Linked DNA regions of Homo sapiens. The protein of the gene in region 1 purifies or fractionates together with the protein of each later gene. This does not show direct contact. Each region holds a gene or a part of one and is shown on either strand. Other genes may lie near its edges. The genes, in order: TPM3 and SPAG9.

Region 1 (12,300 bases):
CTGAGTAACTGGGATTACAGGCACGTGCCACCATGCCTGGCTGGCTAATTTTCATATTTTTACTAGAGACGGGGTTTCATCATATTGGTCAGGCTTGTCTTGAACTCCTGACCTCAGGTGATCCGCCTGCCTCGGCCTCCCAAAGTGCTGGGATTACAGGCGTGAGCCACCCCGCCCAGCCAGGTTTCTTTTTATTGTTGTTGTTGAGATGGAGTCTCGCTCTGTTGCCCAGGCTGGAGTGCAGTGGCACAATCTAGGCTCACTGCAAGCTGTGCCTCCTGGATTCAAGCCATTCTCCTGCCTCAGCCTTCCGAGTAGCTGGGATTGCAGGTGTGTGCCACCATACCCAACTAATTTTTGTATTTTTTTTTTAGTAAAGATGGGGTTTCGCCATGTTGGCCATGCTGGTCTCGAACTCCTAACCTCAAGTGATCCGCCTGCCTCAGTGTCCCAAAGTACTGGGATTACAGGCGTGAGCCACTGCGCCCAGCCTAAGCCACTGCGCCTGGGCTTTTTTTTTTTTTTTTTTTTTTTTTTTTTTTTTTTTTTTTTTTTTTTTTTGAGACAGAGTCTTGTTCTATCACCAAGGCTGGAATGCAGTGGCAAGATCTCGACTCACTGCAACCTCCACCTCCCGGGTTCAAGTGATTCTCCTGCCTCAGTCTCCTGAGTAGCTGGGATTACAGGCAGCTGCCACCATGCCCGGGTAATTTTTTATATTTTTAGTAGAGACAGTGTTTCACCATGTTGGCCAGGCTGGTCTCCAACTCCTGACCTCAAGTGATCCACCCACCTTGGCCTCTCAAAATGCTGGGATTACAGATGTGAGCCACCATGCCTGGCCTCTGCCATTAGGTTTCTGATCTGTTTTGTTTTCCACCACTTTCAGTGGCCAAGGAAAGTGGTAAGAATTGAATATATTATGCCAGAGGTTAGAAACACAAACTAAATATACATCATTTAAACTCATTCTTCCAAAAGTTAAGGCCAGCACAGGCTTTTTTTTTTTTTTTTTTTTGAGACGGAGTCTTGCTGTGTCACCCAGGCTGGAGTGCAGTGGTACGATCTTGGCTCACTGCAAGCTCCGCCTCTTGGGTTCACGCCATTCTCCTGCCTCAGCCTCCTGAGTAGCTGGGACTACAGGTGCCCGCCACCGCGCCCGGCTAATTTTTTGTATTTTTAGTAGAGATGGGGTTTCACCGTGTTAGCCAGGATGGTCTCGATCTCCTCACCTTGTGATCCGCCCGCCACGGCCTCCCAAAGTGCTGGGATTACAGGTGTGAGCCACCGCGCCCGGCCAGGCCGCCACAAACTATTAATTCTCCCTTCTTGTGCCCAGTGTGGTGGCTCAGACCTGTAATTCCAGCACTTTGCTTTGAGAGGCCAGGGCAGGAGAATCGCCTGAGGCCAGGAGTTCAAGACCAGCCTGGGGAACATAGTGAGGCCCTATCTTTACAAAAAATTTAAAAATTAGCCAGGTGTGGTGGCATGTGCCGGTAGTCCCGCGTACTCCAGAGGCTGAGATGGGAGGATCGCTTGAAGCCAGGAGTTCATGCTTGCAGTGAGGTATGATAATGCTACTGCACTCCAGCCTAGGTGACAGAGCAAGACCCTGTCTCTATTTAAAATGATAAAAATTCTCCCTTCTCAGAAAACTCAAAAAAACAAAACAAAACAAACAAACAAACAACCCTACCAAATCTACAGGTTACCCCTGGGCTTTGGGCAAGTGGATGGCTGGCTGGAGTTGTATAGCCTAGGTTCCTGGTATATTTGGATGGATCTCTCTGTTTCTAACATATGGGCATGAAGATAGAAGTTTTCACAAACTAGCACAATGTCAGGTTAATAACAGTTTTGTGAGAAATTGGGTAACATCAATCTGGGTCTGCTCTTAGGCTGAAACGGCTAGTATGTGGGCTTGAGGAGGTGTTTCCAGGAGCAAGAAAAAGAACAAGTCTAACCTGAGATCATGAGAAGGAGAATAACATAGAGGCTGTACGCAATACATCAAAATCATTAGGAATATAAAAGGATTTCCTGGGGATGAATTCTGTCTATCTTAATCTGTTTTACACATGTACAGACATACACATACACACACATAGCACCCCTCACCTAGATGTGGTCTACTCAGTATATTCATTTGAAAGAAGTTTCTTCATATTTACATAGGAATCCACCAAAACCCATTTAAATATGTAAAGTGAGGGTTAAAAATACTCATTCAACCCCTCTCCCCTTTGTTAGCTTTCCCAAGTCAGAAAGTACCCTCAGAGATATGCATAAGAACAAGAAACAGGAGAGGGAAGGTTGTGGCCAGGAGCAAGCAAGAAGAAAGGTTTCTTTCCTCAAAGCTAGAGTCAGCAAACTACCACCTGTGGGTTAAATCTTGCAACAGCCTGGTTTTGTAAATAAAGTTTTATCGGAACACAGTCATGCTCATTCTTGTACATACTGTCTACTGGCTTTCTTATCTCTCTGGCCACAAGACCCTAAAAGTTGGATGACCCCTGCCTCAAAGGGTCAAAGAAGGACAGTGTTTATAGGAATTGGGAGAGGTGCTGAATAAGGACCAACAAGGTTAAAAGCAGAAAGCAAAGGTAAGAGTCATCAGCAGCATAATATATGCATCTTTGGAGGGAGTATACTCTGTCCAATACAAAGGAAGTTAACAGCTCAGCTTCTGTCCTTGAGGTTAATAAATAAGTAAACAGAGCATATTATCTTGAAGTAGATATAAGCAGTAGAGAAGGAGGAGGGAGTCAATAACTACGTGTTTACACAAGCAGTTCTGGTTATCTGAGAAGCCTTTCTGAAAAGTGCAGGATTTACTAGGACTGCTTGAATAAAGAAAGGGCAAGGGTATGGCAAGGCGAGTCCAAACTTTTTTTTCCTCCCTAAATTTGTCTAACTTTGTTTTCTAAGTTGTGGTAAAATACGCATACATAAAACTTACCATTTTAACCATTTTTAAATGTCTAATTCAGTAGTAGCATATTTACATTGTTGTGCAACCACATCTAAGATCATTTTAATCCAAGATGAAATCAGATGCTGTTTAGGGAGAAACAAAGGGAAAGAGGAGTGCATTGTTAGGACATAGAGTCATAACACCATTTTTTAGGGACAGGTGGCAGGAAGGATGGGGAGAGAAGGGACAACGATGGACATATACACCTGTTGATATATTGTATTGCTGGTTACTAGGAACACAATAGCACTGGGCCCCTTGCTGTCTATCCATTGTGCTTCTAAAGGCTATCATGAGTCAGTCCATCTGTTTGACTGCATTAAGAGGAGATTATCTGCTCAAATCTACCAGTCTCAGAAATGCAGTGGTGCTCTCAATACCCTCTTGGTTTGGCTAGGATGAGGTCTTCTGCTGCTTTACCAGGGCACAGGGAGGTACAATAGTGCCCCCTGCTGAGCAGCACCCAGATGACAAAGTGTCACTTCTGCCACATCTTGATCAGACTTCTACAAAGCAAGTTAGAAAAATTCTTAGGCCATCAGGGTAGAGTCTATTAAGAGTCAGAACCCTGATCTTCCTTCCTAATTTCTGGGGGAAAAATCAGTGTGCAGGTTACTCTATTGAGAAAATTATTATCTATCCAAGTTGTTTCTTCTGAATAGTCTCATTGCTCGGTATTTCCAAAAGGTGATAGGAAAACAGAGGCTCTGCAGGGAGCATTCTTAGAACTAGACATTGAGGGCAGCAACTGTCTTGCCTACTATTCCTTTCAGGGATTAGGACTCTTCATTGTAAGTCCTGTTCCACATCCTAATTTTCTAGGAGAAAAGAGAGCTGTCCCAGAAGAAAAATTTATCACGATTACCTACTGGGAAGGTGGGAGGAATACAAAGAAATAAGAGGGAAGATAACGTTCTCAAGTCTCTTTACTATTGTGCTTCCAGAAATCCTGCATGGCAGTGCCTGTAGGGAAAGTTTCTTTTTTTGTTGTTTTTCTTTTTTTTTTTTTCAGACTGTGTCTCACTCTGTCACCCAGGCTGGAGTGCAGTGGCGCGATCTCGGCTCACTGCAACTTCTGCCTTCTGGGTTCAAGCAATTCTCCTGCCTCAGCCTCCCGAGTGGCTGGGATTACAGGCGCCTGCTACTGCACCTGGCTAGTTTTTTGTTTGTTTGTTTGTTTGCTTGTTTTTGTGGTTTTTAGTAGAGACAGGGTTTCACCATCTTGGCCAGGCTGGTCTTGAACTCCTGACCTCGTGATCCACCTGCCTCAGCCTCCCAAAGTGCTGGGATTACAGGTGTGAGCCACTGCGCCTGGTCTGTTTTGCCATTTTTTTTTTTTTTTTTTTGATACAGAGTCTCACTCTGTCACCCGGGCTGGAGTAGAGTGGCACCATCTCAGCTCACTGCAACCTCTGCCTCCTGGATTTAAGCAATTCTCTTGCCTCAGCCTCCCTGAATAGCTGGAACTACAGGTGTGCACCACCACACCCGGCTAATTTTTGCATTTTTAGTAGAGACGGGGTTTTGCCATGTTGGCCAGGCTGGTCTCAAACTCCTGACCTCAGGTGATCTGCCCGCCGTGGCCTCCCAAAGTGCTGGGATTACAGGCATGAGCCACCACATCTGGCCAAAGGGAAGTTTCTAACTCATAAACAGTTCCTTGGGGGTACTTGGAAGTACAGTGGCATTGAAATTGGTAAAAGTTGTAACAGAATGGAGGCTCAATTCTATAGTACAGTTTACAGGCACTCATGTCTGGCTGTTGCATGAAGGATCTAGTAACAGTCGTCTGTTTTTTATTTTTTTGAGACAGGCTCTCAATCTGTCACCCAGACTGGAGGCAGTGATACAATCTTGGCTCACTGCAACCTCTGCCTTCCCGGCTCAAGAAATCTTCCCACCTCAGCCTCCCAAGTAGCTGGGACTACAGACGTGCTGCCACCAAGCCTGGCTAATTTTTTAATTGTTTGTAGAGACGAGGTCTCACTATACTGCCCAGGCTGGTCTCAAACTCTGGGCTGAAGTGATCTTCTCGCGTTGGCCTCCCAAATGTTGGGATCACAGGCATGAGTCACCCCGCCCGGCTGACAGTGGTCTGTAATAGAGGATTTCTTCCTGATAAAATGGGGGCATATCTTTCTTACCTACAAAAGGAATTGTAAGTGATTATTAAATTATTTATTTATTTTTAGAGATGAGGTCTTGCTATATTGCCCAGGCTGGTTTTGAACTCCTGGGCTCAAGCCATCCTCCCACCTCAGCCTCCCAAAATCCTAGACTTACAGACATGAGCTACCACGCCCAGCTGATGATTAAATTGCCAAGTCCTGAATCATTCCAAGGTTTGGAGGGGCTGGAAGGTTGGTTAATTTGGTGCATGATGACTCTCAAAAGTAACAGGGACCTGTAATCCCAGCACTTTGGGAGGCCGAGGCCGGCAGATCACGAGGTCAGGAGATCGAGACCATCCTGGCTAACACGGTGAAACCCCGTCTCTACTAAAACTACAAAAAAAAAATTAGCCGGGCGTGGTGGAGGGCGCTACTCGGGAGGCTGAGGCAGGAGAATCGCTTGAACCCGGGAGGCGGAGCTTACAGTGAGCCGAGTTCGCACCACTGCACTCCAACCTGGGCGACAGAGGAGACTCCGTCCCAAAAAATAAAAAACAAAACAAAAATAAATAAAATAACAGGGAGCCTGACGGGGTGGCGTGCACCTGTAGTCCCAGCTACACCGGAGGCTGAGGTAGGAGGCTCGCTTGAGCCCAGGAGTTCGAAGCTGTAGTGAGTTGTGATCTCGCCACTGCCGCACTCCAGCAACAGAGCGAGATCTTGTCTCTTAAAAAAAAAAAAAAAAAAAAAAAAAAGGAGAAAAGTCTGTTCTAAATAGAACACTTAAGTTCATACCATGCCAAATAGAATGAGAATTTGTGCCATCTTGCCCATCCCTTCCACTCCGACAGTTCCATTCATTGACTTCCAGGAGACGGGAGAGAGAACCTACCTACCTGAGCCGACTTTGAAAGGAGACTGAGTGGGGCTCTTTTGAACCTGAGGCCCAGAAAGTCTTTTAGACTTTTCTTATAACTTGGTTTTGGAGTTTGTCGTGGGGTGAGTGGAAGCAGAGACTTGTAGGATGTTTATATTGTGGAGCAAATACAGTGAGGGGTGACGGGTATCGGCATTGCGGGAGTGAGGGGTCAATTGCGGGAGTGTAAGGTCAGCCGACTACCTGCAAAGGGGCCAACCATTGTGGGCAGCCAGCCTGGCGGGAGAGGCTAGGGCACGAAGCGCCGCCCAGTTACCATGGTAACACTCCCTCGTCCCAACCCCGTCCCAGTTTACTGGCCCAAGGTAAGGCCGGGAGCCGTACTCCAGGGCGACTGGGAGGATCCACTCCCTGCCGCGGCTCTCCCTCCAGTGGACTGCCTTCCCGCCTGCCTGGCGGTGGGAGGGCGCGGCAGAGGGACGTCACATCCGGGCGGGTTGGTGAGTTCCGGTATTTCAGGGCGTAGCAGGCGGAAGTAAGGGTGAGAGGAGGCTGCAACGCCGAGCGGAGGAGGCAGGAACCGGAGCGCGAGCAGTAGCTGGGTGGGCACCATGGCTGGGATCACCACCATCGAGGCGGTGAAGCGCAAGATCCAGGTTCTGCAGCAGCAGGCAGATGATGCAGAGGAGCGAGCTGAGCGCCTCCAGCGAGAAGTTGAGGGAGAAAGGCGGGCCCGGGAACAGGTACGGAGATGGTGAGGCTCATGAGGGAGGGGCAGGCGCTGGAGTATCCGGCAAGCGGAATAAGGTCCCTTTTGCCGTGGAGCACGGTCCTCTGAAGGCCGGCGGGCTCGGAGATGAAGTTGGGATCTCGGAGGATGGGTGGGGCTCAGCACCAGTAGGACACCAAGCGGACGAGGGGGAAACAGTGCTCGGGCGAGCAGGCTTGACCTTTGAAGAAATTGAGCCTTACGGGGTTTGGGGTGTGGCTTTCCTCCTCTTTTTTTCTCCACCTCATTCATTCAGTGCCTCCGATCCGGGCGCGGCCGTGGGAGGGGCTCAGCGGCTTCTCCCTCCCCCACTTCCCCATGGAGGGTGGGAGAACTTTGCTCTGGCTTGAGGTTTCCTGCCCAAGGGGTAAGAGTGGGTGGGTGCTTCTCTGTTCGGGGAGGGGCAGTACTGAACCTTCTGTGAAATGGTGAGGGTTTTGGGGTGGGAACCGTCGGAAAGACCCCGGCCTGCCTGCTGGCAGCTTTTCCGCTCCCTCCTCCTGCTCAGGAAATGAGGCAGCAGTTGGCTGAGAGGAAGCGCGGTGCCCTCCCTCCCTGGAGGAGCTCGAGGCCACAGGACCGCCTCTCATCCTCTGGCCAGGGGCCCTTTCCTCTTACGGGGTGCTCTTGCAGCTGCTACACCCACTCTCTGAATCTACGTGAAACGGCAGGGGAGGGGATAGTACTTCTCTCAACGTTAGTGCAAATGTAGGAGCCAACCAAACTTGCCTGGCCCTACCCACAATGACCTGGAAGGCAGGAACTTCTGTCAGATTCAGGCCTTTATTGCTGAAGTGTGATCAGTGCAAGCCGAACTGGTTAAGAACATTTCTTCCGAGCAGAGCTGATAAGCGAGTGTATGGCAGAGAATCAGATGGTGTGCCAGTCTCAAGGTTTCTGATTGACTTGGGCAATTTGGTGGAGACAATAATGAATTCCAGGTGACTCTAGTGGAATATTTGTTCAACTGAAAGTGGAAACATAAAATGTTGGTGGAGTGAACAGTGATTCTAGTGATTTCTTTCTTCCTTTCTTTTTTTTGAGACAGAGTCTCACTCTGTCGCTCAGGCTGGAGTGCAATGGCATGATCTCGGCTCATTGCAACCTCCGCCTCCCGGGTTCAAGTGATTCTCCTGCCTCAGCCTCCTGAGTAGCTGGGATTACAGGTGCCCGCCACCAAGTCTGGCTAATTTTTTGTATTTTTGGTAGAGACGGGGTTTCGCCATGTTGGCCAGGCTGGTCTCGAACTCCTGACCTCAGGTGATCCACCCACCTCTGCCTCCCAAAGTGCTGGGATTACAGGTGTGATCCACCGTGCCCAGCCTATTCTAGTGATTTCTTTAAACGTCTTTCTGTTTAAAAGTGGCTGATTAGTTTTAGTGTAAGCCATAAGATTTTCCAAGGTCTAGGGTGCAGTCTAATAGATGGAGCTGATACGAGTTGAGGCTTTGTTTTGGAGGATCTTGAGAGAGTAAAGTAACTGTTGCTAAAATTCAAGATCCAGTGAAAGTACTCATGTGGTTTATTCTTTGTTCTTTGTTCTTTCCCTTGGTAAGTTTTTGTTTTTGTTTTTCTTTTTGGCTGCTCCTCTGGGAAATAACTGAGAATGTTTTTGGGAGGGGGAGGGGTGGATTTCAGAAAAGGATGGTAATTGGGGGACAGCTGCCCTCCAGTTTAAATACTTAAAGATTGTTGGAATACTCACTTATTTTTATAAGTGGTCATGGAGATGCTGGGATGGGAGCTTGTTGTCTTCCTCAGACACCTTTTTCTAGGTAGATTTTTTTCCTCTGTTCAGTTTGCCAACAACTTCTTATTATCTGTGCAAGTGAGATGGACTGGCTGGGTGACTCTTTATGGCCAGTGGCACTTTCTCATCTCCTTTGTTCTGGAGACCAGATAGCTTTAAAGGGGAAGACAGAGGAACTGGCCATGTGTTGAGCTGCAGAATCTTAGGCTCAGTATTTAAATATGGACATTCTAGGAGTAGTTCTAAGGTGGGTGATTCCTGCCTCCCATCCCCCCTCTTTTTTTTTTTAGATGGAGACTTGCTCTGTAGCCCAGCCTGGAATGCAGTTGCACGATCTCTGCTCACTGCAACCTCCACCTCCCAGGCTCAAGTGATTCTCCTGCCTTAGCCTCCTGAGTGGCTGGGATTACAGGCATCCACCACCACACTCGGCGATTTTTTTTTATTATTTTATTTTTTTATTTTTAGTAGAGATGGGGTTTCACCATGTTGGCCAGGCTGGTTTCAAACTCCTGACCTCAAGTGATCTGCCTGCCTCAGCCTCCCAAAGTGCTGAGATTACAGGCATGAGCCACTGCGCCTGTCCTGGGGTGATGTTTCTTAAGCTACTTTCACTCAGAGCCTGCCAAATTTGCTTATTGAGCTGAGGTCTAGTGAGGAAGTCCTCAGAATGGGGAAGTAGAGTTATAGTTAAATATTGATGAAATCATTTCTTCTACTCCCCAGCCTGAAGAAGCTTAATCTTTTGACTTTCTGCTGCTCTGCTGAACTTTGAACCCCTACTGAGGAGGAGACACCTGTGGGAAGGGAGGGGGGTTGCTTGGGCTACCTGTTATCCTCTTAAGGCATTCTGGAATGTGGGTTTTGCAGACTCCTCCCTCCTCTGGAGCGGGAAACTGCACTCTCTGATGGTATCTCATGCTGTTAGTGGGATTGTCACTTAATTATTTTCCTGGTTACTTTGTGTGAACATCCAAGCCACCCTTGTTGGGAAGCTAGATGAGTCTAAAACTGAGACACTGGTGTTCTAGGATCCATCTTTCTTTTCTGCTCTCGGCCTGGAAATTGGTCTTTTATAATGTAGCACCTTGTCAAATTTACTTTCAGTTCTGTATTTCCTTTTTACTTCTGTCTAAATGGAAACAGATGGCAACATAATGTTTAAATGCAGTCTTTTTCCTTATCTCTTTTTTTTTGTGGTAGTGGTGATAAAAATACATGTAAAATTTACCATTTTAACCATTTATAAATGTACAGTTCACCTTATCTGTTTTTAATAACTCTCTCCTAATTGTCCCTGATATTTTTCTCTTTTTAATTTTTTTCTAGTCTAAAAAACTTAAGAGGCTGGGTGCGGTGGCTCACACCTGTAATCCCAGCCCTTTGGGAGGCCTAGGCGGGTGGATCTGAGGTCCACCTGTGGATCTGATGAAACCCCATCTCTACTAAAAATACAAAAAATTAGCTGGGCATGGTGGCGCATGCCTGTAATCCCAGCTACTTGGGAGGCTGAGGCACAAGAATTGCTTCAACCCTGGAGGCGGAGGTGGCAGTGAACCAGGATTGGATCATGCCACTGTACTCCAGCCTGGGCGAGTATCGGCACTGGGGGAGTGAGGGGTCAACTGCGGGAGTGTAAGGTCAGCACACTACCTCTGCCTCAAAAAGAAAAAAAAAAGTAATAACAAAAACCTTAAGAGTACTACCGAGGGAGTGGGCTTTGATTCTGGCCTTAATCCTAAATTCCTAGTCTCTGGAGAGGTTAGAATGCTTGACTGTTGTGTGGTTCTCTTCTATTCGTGGGCCTGGTGGACTAAGCAACCTTTCTTTGGTTGCTTTGCTTTCCTTTCTCTTTCCCCAGTACTAGAACACACACTCACAGGGGAGAGGCAGATAGCCCTTTACCCCTGCTTAGGCTCCGCCTTTGTTTACTGTGGGGCAGATAGCTCTACTCCCTTCCAACTTGCCTCCCCTTTGGTGAAGTTTAAATTCCCCAAGGACACGGTATCTCCCTGGGTAATGCATTTGTGAGCACAGTGAACTCAAATAGTCCTTTACTCACAGGGCTCAAGCCTAACTTTCTGATACTCTTTCATTTGAATTTTATCTGTGGCTTTTATCTAATAAGAGAAACCCCAGTGTGGCAGAAAGCCAGATTTAGGCTAATCCCCTTCTGTCCTTGGCCCTGTTCTGCCTGAGAGTACCATCACACTGTCAGTTTCTTGCCTGGAGGGGTTGACATATTTGGGAAATCTCTTTGGAGTGGAGGATAGCCGAAGGTGTTGTCAGCCATCTGGTAATGTGACTGAGTTGCTGGGGCATTCTACTCTTTCCCCAATCCCTCACCCAGGATCTTTGCTTCCTGGGCAGTGGAGAATCCTATTATTACTTGAAGGGAAGAACCACAGAGTACTGTATATCCTCCACACTGGGCAGAGATAGGTCAGCTGAAACACCAAAACCGCATCTGGATGGGCATGCTAAAACCTAAGATGATTAGGAAAGTGCAGAGCTTAACGTTTCCCAGGGCCACAGGTAGCCTGGTCTGCAAAAAGTAGGCCTGTTCAATCTCTTGGTACCCATTGGTATTATTTGACCTGAAAGGGACAGGCACTGTGCATAGACTCATGAGGGAAAAGTCAGCTTGTCTTCCTTGTTCCTTTAAACAAAGTATCAGATCTTGATTCTGCAGGCTTTTGTTTCATTGTAAAGAGAACTGATCCTCTGTGCTAGGAGAAAAGAGAAAGGCAAGGTCCCATTCCCTACCACTCCACCCTGGAGGGGGTCTCTGAAGCTTTTTCTAGGACTCCCATCTCAGGTTCTGCTTTTGATACAGGCTTGTTCATGTGTGCATGCTCTTAGGAGGGCACCAAGATGTGTTTTCCCCCTCTCCCTTTTCAGCCTTGCTAAGAATTCTATTGTAAATGCTGATTTGTGGGAGAAACTGCCTGAGCCAGCTTGCTGTCATGGCAACTGTACACCCCCGCCCCATAGCCTGTTATCTTCTACTCCAGTTTGGGTAACTACTGGTGAGCTGCATGATGTCTTACATTTCATGAGCTTCCTCTAAATCTAGTTGTATTTTTCGTCTGAGGGGGGTAAGTCATTTTACTAGCAGTGTCTCCTAGGTCTTGCCTGATAGCCTGACTTGCTCTTGATCCATGGCCTTGTTGGGTTTGTGAGGAGAAATGTGTGTTGTTACAGAGAACATCTATTTTTCTGGAAGAGGCAGAAGCAGAGAATACTTGTCTTTGTGGTGTTTTGAGTAGTGTAGTTAGAGGCACAAATGGTTTCTTAATGATTTCAGCTTATGTTGACTTCTCGATTTTCTTTGCCTGGTGGCTAGATTGTAGCCCCAGCCCTCTGCTTCCCTTCCTAGTCTCTTCAGCTTCTCATGTTTGTATGTGGAAGTTTTTGTGCCAGTCCTGATGGTTAAAAAGGAGTCTTTTGGTCTATATTCTTCCTCATCGGAGCTAGTGGCCCAGGCTGTTTCTATAGCTGCACCAACTCCTGCCTGCCAGGAAGAAATCAGGGTAATAGAATTCAGGCACAATCTGGGCTATAGAAGAGAGATCGTGTTTACCAGGCACTTGGATAAGCATCTGAACTGGGTGGTGTGCGGGGCATATTAAATTCTTGTATACTGTTGCAGTCAGGGTACCTCCCACCAGTAAAGGTAGCGGGGAGGCAGTCATGGAAAGAGGTTTTCCTACCATTAGAATTTATCCATCCACCTGCAGGCTGCCTCCTTCTTTCCTTGTTTCTTAGAGAAAACCCATCCAGGATGGGTTTACTTGGACTCTAACCTATATACTTCAT
Region 2 (12,300 bases), on another chromosome or scaffold:
TCGAGCAAGGCACTTAACCTCAGAGACTCATTTCCTCACTCCTAGGTGGATGTGATTAATATCTGCTCTGCCTACTTCATTTGTTATGAAAATTAATGAAAATGCTACTGGGAGCTATAAAGCACCACCCAGAAAAAAGATGGAAGTGATGATGTCCAGTGAAAAATGACAAATTATCCATTGACAATACTTAAGTGATGTCACTGACCATCTGTAAGCAGGACACAGGTTTTGAATTTTTTTTTCCCATAAGAGGCAAGTTTAGGAGCTAGACGAAGTTCAGATCTGACTTTCCCCCACCAACTAACTGTGTGATGTAGTATATTAGTCAGGGTTCTTCAGAGAAACAGAACCAATAGGATGCATGTGTATGTGCGTATGAAGAGAGAGTTACTGTTAAGAAATTGGGTCACACAGTTGTGGGGACTAGCAGGTCTGAAATCTGCAGGGCAGGCTGGCAGGCTGGAGACCCCGGGAAGAGTGGATGTTGCAGTCCAAATCTGAAAGCAGTCTGGAGGCAACATTTCTCTTTCCTCTGGATCCCTCAGTCTTTTTCTTCTAAGGCTTTCAACTGGTTAAATGAGGCCCACCCACACTGTGGCGTGTAATCTGCTTTACTCAAAGTCTGTTGTTTTAAATGTTAATCACATCTAAAAAAGACTTACAATGATATCTAGACTGGTGTTTGACCAAATATCTGGGTATCGAGCTAACACGTCAAATTACTCATCATACTTATTTTCCCAAGGGTCTTCCAAAGATTAAATGATTTTATGTACATGGGGCAAGGGCTGGCATATGGTACCCTAAGCAATTATTCAGTTATTCTTAACAACAGTGATAATGAGCTTTCTGAAACCTCATTTGTACATTTTATATATTTGTATAGTCATTTCCTTCCTAGAAATGGGATTGCTGGTAACAGTGTTTCTCTTGCTTAAAAAAAAATGAAATATCACAGTTTCCTTTAAATCTCCTTTGTATCCCTCTCCAATCCCATTCTCCTCTCCTTTTCCTCTCCATTGGTAACCACTATCTTGAAGTCGATGCAAATCCTCTTGCCCCTGTTTTTGTATTTTTACTATGTTTGAATGTGTTTATAAACAATGTATGATTGTTTTGTGGTTTTGGACTTTACATGTTAAATGTTGTGTTTTATATGTATGCTTCTACAACTTGCTTCTCATTTTTTGAGATTTATCAATGTTCATACATAAAAATCTAGTTTATTCATTTAACTGGTATTATAACTGAATAAAAGTGCTACATTTTATTCATTCTTCTGTTGATGGACCTCTAGGCTTCTCCCCTTTCTTTTTTCACTATTAAAAACAATACTGAAGCAGACCTTCTTGTGTGCATGTGTAAGGATTTTTTGTTGGGTATAAATCTAAAAGTGGAATTAGCAACATGGTTGTTGCGAGGCCAGTTGGCCCTAAAGATTAAACCATTCTGGTTGGCCTTATCAGTAATACCACTGTGCTCTTGCTTCTGTGGCAGAACTAACTCGTCTACCAACAGAAGTCATTGCTGGCATGCTTGATTTCTTCCAAAGTATAATTGAGTAATGCATGAATGAATCCCTGTGGGGATACGTCAGACTATCCTATCCACTTTCAACATACATTAATTTTGTTACAGTGTGTCGCATTAATGGCTGTCCAGCTAGCTCCTGGAGGCGCAGTCTGTGTAGTTTGACCAAAGGACAGCAGATTCTGACAAGGAAAAAAATATCCCACAATTAAATCTTGCTAAGAGGGTTGGCTTAGAGATTGCTCATTTGTTCATAGTTGTGAATAATATTTAAAGGTTTCTCTCTTTCTATTATTTCACACTCAAGGATTCTACCTTAGAACTTAAGCTTTAGAACAAACAGCACATTTACTAGTAATTTTGTTTGCATAATCTAAATTAAAAATAACCTGTATTTTCCTTAAATATGAGAGGAAAGCCATAGATTTGAAATAAATTTAAATGTTAATTATGACTATGCAAACTCATAGGGCTTAAGTTGAAGACTTTTCTCAGTCTCTTACACAAATAAGCACATTCCTTTTCAAGGGAGAGACCTTTTCCACTGTCTTCTCAGATCAAAAGATTTAGACTATAATAGTTTGAAGCAGGTAGGCTGTGCATGGTGGCTCACACCTGTAATTCCACAACTTGGAAATCAAGGCAGGAGGATCACTTGAGCCCAGGAGTTTGAGACCAGCCTGGGCAAACATAGCAAGACTTCATTAAAAATTTTTAAGAGACCAGGCACAGTGTCTCATGCCTGTAATCCCAGCACTTTGGGAGGCCTAGGTGGGTGGATCACTTGAGGTCAGGAGTTTGAGACCAGCCTGACCAACTTGGTGAAACCCCATCTCTACTAAAATACAAAAATTAGCCGGGCGTTGTGGCAGGCACCTGTAATCGCAACTACTTGGGAGGCTGAGGCAAGAGAATTGTTTGAACCCCAGAGGCGAAGGTTGCAGTGAGCCGAGATCGCGCCATTGCACTCTAACCTGGGCCACAAGAGCGAAACTCTGTCTCAAAAATAAATAAATAAAGTAATTTGGGCCAGGTGCAGTGGCTCATGCCTGTATTCCCAGCACTTTGGGAGGCCGAGGCAGGCAGATCATGAGGTCAGGAGATTGAGACCATCCTGGCTAACACGGTGAAACCCTGTCTCTACTGAAAAAGTTAGCCGGGCATGGTGGCACGTGCCTGTAGTCCCAGCCACTCAGGAGGCTGAGGCAGGTAAATCGCTTGAACCCGGGAGGCGGAGGTTGCAGTGAGCCAAGATTGTGCCACTGCACTCCAGCCTGGGCGACAGAGCAAGACTCCATCTCAAAAAAAAAAAAAAAAAAAAAAAAAAGGTAGTTTGAAGCAGGCAGCTAAGACCCACCTTGCCATGCATATATCTCATATTGGATTTGGGGCCTATTCCTGCTTTGTTACAAAATTGCTTTACTTAGATTTTCAAATTGGGTTTTGTTTGTTTGTTTGTTTGTTTGTTTGTTTGTTTTTTAGAAGCAAGGTCTTGCTCTGTTGCCTAGGCTGGAGTACAGTGGCGCATCACAGCTCACTGCAACACTGAACTCCTGGGCTCAAGTGATCTTTCTGCCTCAACCTCCCAAGAAGCCAGGATTACAGGCGCATACCACCATTCCCGGCTAACTTTTTTGGTAGAGATGAGGCCTTACTATATTTGCCAGGCTGGTCCCAATCTCCTGGCCTCAAGTGATTCTCCCACTTCGGCCTCTCGAAGGTGTGAGCCACCATGCCTGACCTCAAATCGGGTTCTTAAAACCTTCATGTAAATGTTTTCTGATCATGCAGAGCCTTCTAGCTTCCCCAGTATTTGGTTATTAGAATATATTTACCTTTTTGTTTAACTCTAAAAATACTTAAAAAAAAAAAACAAAACAGCCTCCCTTCTGTGATAAGTAATATTCACTTTTGTTTCTGTATAAAACAGGTCAAGTCATCAGCCCACAAAGTAGCAGTAGTGGCACGGATCTGACGGGTGACAAAGCAGGGCCATCTGCACAGGAGCCTGGTAGTCAGACGCCCTTGAAGTCTATGCTTGTCATCAGTGGAGGAGAGGGCTACATCGACTTCCGAATGGGTATGTCATTGGTTCTGGGTGCTCAGTTTGCACTGTGTGCTATGACTTGGGTTTTGTCCCAAAGTAAATAAGAAACCACTCTGATAATGATTTATAAGAGGTTCTCTTTGAGCTCTTTACACACGAAAGGATTTTGTGGGTTTTTGTTTTTTGTTTTTTTCTTTTTGGTATTTCTTTCTTTTTTTTTTTTTTTTGAGATGACGTCTCACTCTGTCACCCAGGCTGGAGTGCAGTGGCATGATCTCAGCTCACTGCAATCTCTGCCTCCAGGTTCAAGTGATTCTCCTGCTTCAGCCCCCCAGGTAGCTAGAATTACAGACATGCACCACCACATCTGGCTAGTTTCTGTATTTTCAGTAGAGACAAGGTTTCACCATGTTGGCCAGGCTATTCTCAAACTCCTGACCTCAAGTGATCCGCCTGCCTCGGCCTTCCAGCTGGGATTACAAGCCCGAGCCACCGCACCCGGCCCTTGGTATTTCTTTTCATACCAAAATGTATTTGTTTGAAAGGAGCATTAGAAATAGCAGGATGTGGTCAATGTGAAGTTTTATGTGAAAAGCATAGGATTTAGGGTCAGAAGGCCTTGGACAAGTCATTCAACCTCTTAGAGCCTCGGTTTTCTGTCAAAATGGAGAAATAAAAATATTTCTTAAACAACTTCATTTGTTCATTTTCTCACCTAACAAACATTAATTGAGCACCTACTGTGTACCTGTCATTCTTAAACTGGAGATACAGAAACAAATCAGACAAAGCCTTCGTCTAATAGATTATAGAACAGTGCAGAGATAGAGACATGTTAATAAATTAAAATGTTACTGATGCTCTGGTAGTGAGTAGTCAGTTCTTTCCAAGGGTAGGGAGAGAAGGAAGTCAAGAAATGATGCTTGAGGTGACTCAGCACTGCATAGTCTTAGCACAAAGGGTCAGGTTGGGGAATGGGGTGGGGAGGACCAGGGGTTGGCACTCCGAGGTAAGAGAATAGCTTGGCCAAAGGTTTAGAGATATGAAACCATTTTAATGGAAGAAAAACTATTTTAAAATGACAAGAGTGTGGAGTAGAAGAAAGTATGAATTTGTTGTCAAAAGGGAGGGAGGGACTGGAGTATGGGAGGCCTTTACATACCAGATTAAGAAGATTGTACTTTATCTTTCAAGCAAAAGAGAACTATAGGAGCAATGTGATTAGAGTTGTGTGAAGGATGGACTGGAGGTTCAAGACTAGACCTAGGGAAATGAGTTGGGAACAAGTGAATGCCCAAGAAAGGTAGTAACAGTGTGAACAGATAAGAAGCATGATGAGAATGTGGGGAAGGAGAGAATGGGCCATAGAGCTCAGGACTGTCAACAGGAGAAGCAGGTCTGGAGGGACGGAAAGAGGAGTCCAGTGCTGATCATGTTGATCTTGAAGAGCATAGTGGTGATTTAGGTGGGAAATTTCCACTGGGCTTCTGAATATACAGGTCCTCTATCTTAGGAGGGAGGGATTTGGGGGCTGTCAGCATGGAGTGGTACTAAAAGCCATGAGGGTTGGTGAGTTCGCCCAAGGAGCTAAAAGAAAAGGTTCCAGTGGCTAAACCCAGTCTCTAATAAAAATACAAAAATTAGCTGAGCGTGATGCCGTGTACCTGTAATCCCAGCTATTCAGGAGGCTGAGGCAGGAGAATCACTTGAACCCGGGAGGTGGAGGTTGCAGTGAGCCGAGATCACACCACTGCACTCCAGCCTGGGTGACAGAGTGAGACTCCATCTCAAAAAAAGAAAAGAAAGAAAAAGGAAAGGTTCCAGGATAGAACCCTGAATTCATACTCCATTTAAAGATCATTAGAGCTTATGGAGGGATCTGAGAAGGAATGGCCAGAGAGGTACAAAGAAAACATGGAGAACTGATGCTCGTGAAAGAGTAGTGCTTTGTAAATTGTAAGACACTGTACAAATATGTTTATTTATTTGCTATAATTTTTCTTTTTTGAGACAGAGTCTCACACTCTGTCACCCAGGCTGGAGTGCAGTGGCACAATCTTGGCTCACTGCAACCTCCACCTCCCGGTTTCAAGCAATTCTCATGCCTCAGCCTCCCGAGTAGCTGGGATTTCAGGCATGTGCCACCACGCCTGGTTAATTTTTGTATTTTTAGTAGAGACGGGGTTTCACCATGTTGGCCAGGCTGGTCTCGAACTCCTGGCCTCAAACAGTCCACCTGCCTCAGCCTCCCAAAGTGCTGGGATTACAGGCATGAGGCACCGCACCCAGCTTATTTGCTATAAATAAACTGATCCCTTGGACTCGCTTAAAATCTCAGTGCTTCAAAAAGTTCCCAGACATAAGGCAGTAGGCAGTTTGAGAGAATATAATAGTGTTGTAGATCAGTAACAAATACTTTAGATATGAATTCTGTAAAGGAATAAAAAAAAATTAGGGTCATTTAAATGACAATGTGACAAATGTGATTAGTGTCACCAATATCTGATGCAAAAAGTTTGTTGACACTTTTAAGAGGGGAAGGCTGTTAGTGTGAACTTTAGAAATTGATTCCAGGGATGTCAGCAGGAATGGAGTCATTTCAAAGTGTTTTGAATAATTGACTATTGTTGAATTCCCTTTTATGAGAGGAGTTGTTAGGGACTCCACTTGGCTGGGGTGATTTTTGTAACTTTGTGTTGGAGTGCAGTATGTCAGTTGGAACCGTACTGAGGAGTTTGTTAATAAAATCTCTATGTGGTTTTTCCATTTCCACTAAAAATTCCTTCCATTGTGGATCCTGAAAATAGAACAAAAATTGCTTAACCAGGTTTGGCAGTATCTCTAGTTATTTCCAGCCTGAAAAACAGACTTGTCTTTAGCATAGGCTAATTTTAATAGTGAATATACTGTTGTAAAAAATCAAATTTGATCTTTTTTGGGGGTCCATTTCCTTTTTCATTTCCTGTAATATTTTAACAGTGAGAAATTGATTCTAAAGTCCCATATTTTTAATGATTTAAACTTAAAACTTAGGCTGTAGAGACCCTAGCAGACAGGATAATTTTCTTACAAGTAAAATCTTCAGAACAACTCAGAAGAGAAATGGCGACAGCCTTTTGTCTCAGCCAGTTAATTTTTTTCATTGAAATTTTTTAAAATTTAAGAGCCAAACTTAATTTTTTTACCTTCTAACCACCTGGGTATGTTTCAGTTCAGAGATGGGAGTTTGAACTGAGTGTTCTCCTCTCTCTAGTTTGATATTGCTGTGAAAAGGCCATTACAGGGCTGGGTAAGGGAAAGTTTGGCCTGCAGAGAAAAATGCAGATATTTAGGGTTTTTTCTCTTCTGTTGTTTCTAGTCAACAGTATCAATATTTTCTTTTGTCCAGCTGAAATTCACATGGGGCACATTACAAAATTCTGTTAGATCAGTGGAATATATCTTTAGGTCCTGTGGTGTGTATGTTTTTAGGATTCTGCTGAAGAATCCATCCCACTAGACAACTTTTCACTGGGTTGTGCCAAAATAACCCTGCTCTGTGACAACAGATACAATTGATGCAAGCTTGTATCGAGAATTATGGTATGCCCTGCACTGGGTCTTATGGAGAGGAGTGTGGTGTACCCCAGACTGGGCCTTGGAAGCCAGTGTCTGATCAGGACACCATGGATCACATTCACTTAGCCGTGATGCAGAAGAACCTGTATCTTGGCTGCTACCCCAACCTCTTTGTTTCTCCTTTTCCATTATACACTGTTAATTTGTAACCTATCCTAAACTTGAAAATCATTGGAAGAAAAACCCAGTAGCTGGTGAATCTGCCATCTGCAGTGCTGCAGGCTAATTATTTTAATTTCCATATGCTTGTGTCAATTATCTTCAATTGGAGAACATTACACCTGTCATTGATAATTGTGAGTTATTTGGGTTTAGTTAGTTTGCTCTGTACCTGTGCTCACGCATTTTATAACACTATTCTCAGTTCTTAGTTTAAAATAAGTGACAGTAGACTCTTCATTTTGGATGAACACAGAATTGCCTTCTTAGCTTCCCATGTCTGGACCATCGGTATGCAGACATGTTGGGGTGGCTTTTTAACGTAGTATAGTGAACTGGATTTTATAAATACAGTCTGAAAAATGAATTAACCTTTTCTGAAGTCAAGCAGTGGCTTGGGTGAATATGGGTGAGGATTCTGACTCTTAGTATTTCTTCTACTATTTACTCTCCAGTGAAAGTCAGACAAGTTTTGGGCATCTTGTTCATGGACTAACCACGAGCATTACATCTGACTCACATCATTCTATATTTTATGTGTTCAGCCTAACTTGAGTCTTCTTATCATTCACTAGGTGATGAAGGTGGAGAATCAGAACTTCTTGGAGAGGATCTTCCACTTGAACCTTCTGTCACCAAAGCAGAAAGGAGTCACTTGATAGTGTGGCAAGTGATGTATGGCAATGAGTGAGCCCATGGGAAACAGGTGGAGATGGGGAAGCCGTCTCTTCTGCATGGTTTATTTTCCCTCTATCCTTTTATTTAATGCTCTTTTGTGAGATAAGTTTCACCACATAATGTGTGAGCATTTTTTCCTGTTAACTTTATATTACAAAATCCGTTCTACCATAACAATACAGAGGAACTAGCTGTGTTACTGCACCAGTGTTATAGGTAACTTCAGTATATTATGAACAAATCAAAGAATGTTTACTTCCTGCAAACTGGTGAATTATAGAAAGCAATCCAGATGTGGTTTACTCTGCCACAGTCTAATGTCATTCACTTCATTTGATGGGGTCACTTGTTAGCTGTCACTAATAATGGAATTAATGGGAAACACTTGATAAATGAAACTGTACCGTTAAATACAATAGCTGAGTTTTCCCCAGTGTATTGTAAAATTGACACACACTAATACAAGATGGATTATCAGGATGTATCTAAATGTCCCGAGAGGGTTAAAAGCTAACTGTAAATTACTTTAACTTTCACTTTCAAATCTGACAAATCTTGTTTATATGGTATATAAAACTTTGTTTTCATCAGATTTGGGGGGGTTTTATATTAAAGAAATTAAGACTACACTATTTAAATAAACGTTTCCTGTTTCTGACTTATTAGAGCTCTAAAGTTTATGAGGCCTACTTCTCTGAATATTCTGATGGGTTTTTTTTGAGACCAGTCTCATTTTCATACTGACATGTCTGAAAGATTTATTATTTATAAAGCTTAGGACATACTCTGGGAAGCTTAGAAGATACTTCAGCACTGGGAGGATTTTTTAAAGGAAATGTGTTTTGTATTTCTTGTACCAGAGAATGGTGATGTTGATTGAGTTTTTTCCATGTAAAAAATGTACTTGTTTGCCAAATGTTCCTAGATTGCTCTTAACCTGTTAATACAAGTAAAACTGTAGTGGGGATGGAGTCTGGCCTAAGTACAGAATGAGGGATTTAATTAGAAAAGTTATTTTCTTTTGTTCTGTATCAAACTGCAGAACAGCTATATACTTGGTATTTTGTACGTGAATAACGTTTTAGCTTTTGTGCCCTTTTGAGCTTGAAGGGTTATCCTCAAAGGGGAAAACTATGAAGGGGAAGAAGACAAACCTAAGATACCATAAAGTAAAGGTTGACATTACATATTTTCATTCACAATGCCCATTAAAAAAAAAAAATAGGTTGGGCATGGTGGCTCACGCCTGTAATCCCAACACTTTAGGAGGCTGAGGCAGATGGATTGCTTGAGCCCAGGAGTTCAAGACCAGCCTGGGCAACATGGCGAAACCCTGTCTCTACCAAAAAAAAAAAACAAAATAAATTAACCGGGTGTGGTGGCACATGCCTGTAGTCCCAGCTACTTGGGAGGCTGAGGTGGGAGGATGACCTGGGCCCAGGAGGTGGAGGTTGCAGTGAGCCTTGATAGCACCACTGCACTCCAGCCTGGGTGACGGAGCAAGACCCTGTCTCAAAACAGACAAACAAGCAAAAAATAGATTAAAGTCTGGATTTCACTGATTTTCTTGCTTAATAAGTTTTTTAAAACCACGATGCTGCAATTTTTTCCCTCTCAAGCTTCTTGAAAATGTGTGATTTACCCTTTTTTATCTATTACTCTAGGCAAAGCTAAATATGATTTTTTTTTTTTTTTTTGAGACGGAGTCTGGCTCTGTTGCCCAGGCTGGAATGCAGTGGTGCGATCTCAGCTCACTGCAACCTCCACCTCTCAGGTTCAAGTAGTTCTCCTGCCTCAGCCTCCCAAGTAGCTGGGATTACAGGTGTGTGCCACCCTGCCCAGCTAATTTTTGTATTTTTAGTAGAGACAGGGTTTCACCACATTGGCCAGGCTGGTCTCAAACTCCTGACCTCAGATGATCTACCCGCCTTGGCCTCCCGAAGTGCTTGAATTACAGGCGTGAGCCCCCGCGCCGGTCCGAAGCAAAGCTAAATGTAATTTTATGTACTGTTTTAACAGTATAAACCTATGGGATAAAGGCCCCCAATCATCAGAAGGACTACTGAAAAGAAAAGAAAGCAAACGTAGATGTCAAATTGTCTAAACATTCTTAAGTACCACTGATTTTTTTTTTCTGGACTATTATACAAAGATGTCTGTAAAAAGTATACCAGTGGCTTTTATGCATATACACGATTAGGCTAGATTGTGAAGTACATGGGATTTCATGAGCCAGAGGAGGCATTTGGATCCATTGGGCCACATGTGACTATAAGCACATTGTGTACACAATAAAATTGTAGCCACTCATGTATTAAAACTGTTTTGGTAAAAGCTGTATTAAAAGAATAATTTTTTGCTTGAGCTACTTAGTCACTTTTTTGCAGGGCACCAAAATGTAGGCTACTTTTCCATAGCTTGTTTGCTATGTTTTTATTTCATCTTAAATCTGAGCCATTTTTGGCAATATCTTTTAAAAAATCATTATTAAACATTTATTGGAAATGTTGTATAGATTCACAAGAAAGAGACACCAAAGTGTTTGGGAATTTTAATCCCAAGAAGTAAACATCCCAGAGTCAGATCCCATTTGCTGTTGTTCAGCCATGTTTGTATGACTGAATGTAATTTAGGAAATCAGGAGTTAGAGATGAAAAATACAAACATGTCAAATGGTTGTAATTGCTTTTTTTGAACTTACTGGCTTTAACTTAAGTAATATAGGTGTGTAGTTGTTTTATCTAAAGATGTCAGATTATCTGTGGCCCTGTTAATTAACTGCAGGGACCAGAGAGAGGACAAAAATGCCTGTATAATTTGCTTTAAAGGCTTGTCCTTATGTTTGTAATTTCAGTTAAATATTTTCTACAGATTGCTTCACTTCCCCTTTCCCCCAATAACAAGTTCATATTCTTGTAATGTTTACTTTGGTCAACGTGGTAATTTTTGGAAGAAAATGCCAAAATGTAAGCTTCTCACAAGCAGCAAAGGAATGTAACTGCCTGTAGCTACCACATCAAGGGAGAGAAGAGGCTTGCGTACTTTGGGTTGATCTCACTGTACAAAAAAAGTGTACCCCTATTGGAAGAAATAAGGAATACTTGAAGGTTTCTCCTTTTTTTACACTTGAGTCATGTGCAAGGTTGAACCATATGAAATTGCCAGTGTTCAACCATTGCTGATCTGCAAAAGCGACAATATCATATGCCTCAACCTAACACTTACTCTTAAATGCAGGTTAAAATCTCTGTGAGGCAAAGGGATAATATTCTCTAGGAACTCACTTTTGAGAGTATTTTTCTCTAACCCATGTGGATCTAAATTTTAAAAATAGGAATGAATCTCTTAATTGCAGCTTGTGGAGAGTATAAAACATTTTGAGCACAATATGCAGCACATAACTTTTCAGATTGTGTTTGCATAGAAAAGGTTAAAATCAATTCTTTCAGTTACTGTATTGTTCATTTCTTGTAAAGGTCTTCCTACATTTGAGACGAGACCCTTTAACATAGGCTGCCTTAGTAACAAAATAAAACAGATGTGTCATAATATTAACTGTCCTAAAGAACATGTGTCTTGCAAATGCCATGGAACTGAATATTTATTTCCTTGTGAGTATTATGACCGTTACCAAAGGACTCAACCAGATTTAGGGCTCTTCTTAATTGATCATGTTCAGAAAGGGACTCATTTGGTCCCACTTTGTAACATGGGAAGAGTAGAAGAGAAAATTAAATGTGGAAATCATAAATGCTTTTCTAACAGGGTTATGCTATTCTGTAACACTAAATGTCTGTCTTTTCTCTTAAAAGATTAAGTTTTATTAATTTTGTCATACATTTCTCTATTTGAATATATCTTAACCATTTTATGTTCCAAATTCGTTTTTTGTCCAAGACATTCTATCAGAATTTTACTTGCCTCTATAATCTGAAAAATGGGTTCTAGAATGTCCCACTTGCTGTCTCTTAGAGGCTGAGCTTCATTTCTATGAGCAAAGAGCTCATTTAGCAATGTAGTTATTTCAGTATTTATTTCTATTATGGAATCCCTGGGGTTCAGAATGTAACTTTGTACATGAGATATATATAAATATGTATATGAACATGTATGAGGTCTAGTGTGTTTTGTTTTGTTTTTACCGTTCCTGGGGATCTGAACTTGGTTTTTATTTGCAAGTCCAATAATCTTCCCCATCACACATGTCATTCCTGAGGGTCAGGACTGTTGCCATTTGGCACCAGCTAAAGGTGAGCAGTGGGGAA

The links.
Region 2: the proteins of TPM3 (region 1) and SPAG9 purify together in Homo sapiens (affinity purification with mass spectrometry; 3 studies listed by BioGRID and IntAct, with this or other methods). This does not show direct contact.

The regions. Positions count from the first base shown.
Region 1 is NC_000001.11:154,177,393-154,189,692, reverse strand, and holds part of TPM3 (tropomyosin alpha-3 chain), read left to right. Parts: intron 1-2,250; exon of another isoform or gene 2,251-2,435; intron 2,436-6,474; exon of another isoform or gene 6,475-6,573; coding exon of another isoform or gene 6,574-6,705; intron 6,706-11,488; exon of another isoform or gene 11,489-11,579; intron 11,580-12,300. UniProt on the Homo sapiens protein: Binds to actin filaments in muscle and non-muscle cells. Plays a central role, in association with the troponin complex, in the calcium dependent regulation of vertebrate striated muscle contraction.
Region 2 is NC_000017.11:50,962,020-50,974,319, reverse strand, and holds the end of SPAG9 (C-Jun-amino-terminal kinase-interacting protein 4), read left to right. Parts: intron 1-3,463; coding exon 3,464-3,613; intron 3,614-7,932; coding exon 7,933-8,048; 3' UTR 8,049-12,146; downstream 12,147-12,300. UniProt on the Homo sapiens protein: The JNK-interacting protein (JIP) group of scaffold proteins selectively mediates JNK signaling by aggregating specific components of the MAPK cascade to form a functional JNK signaling module.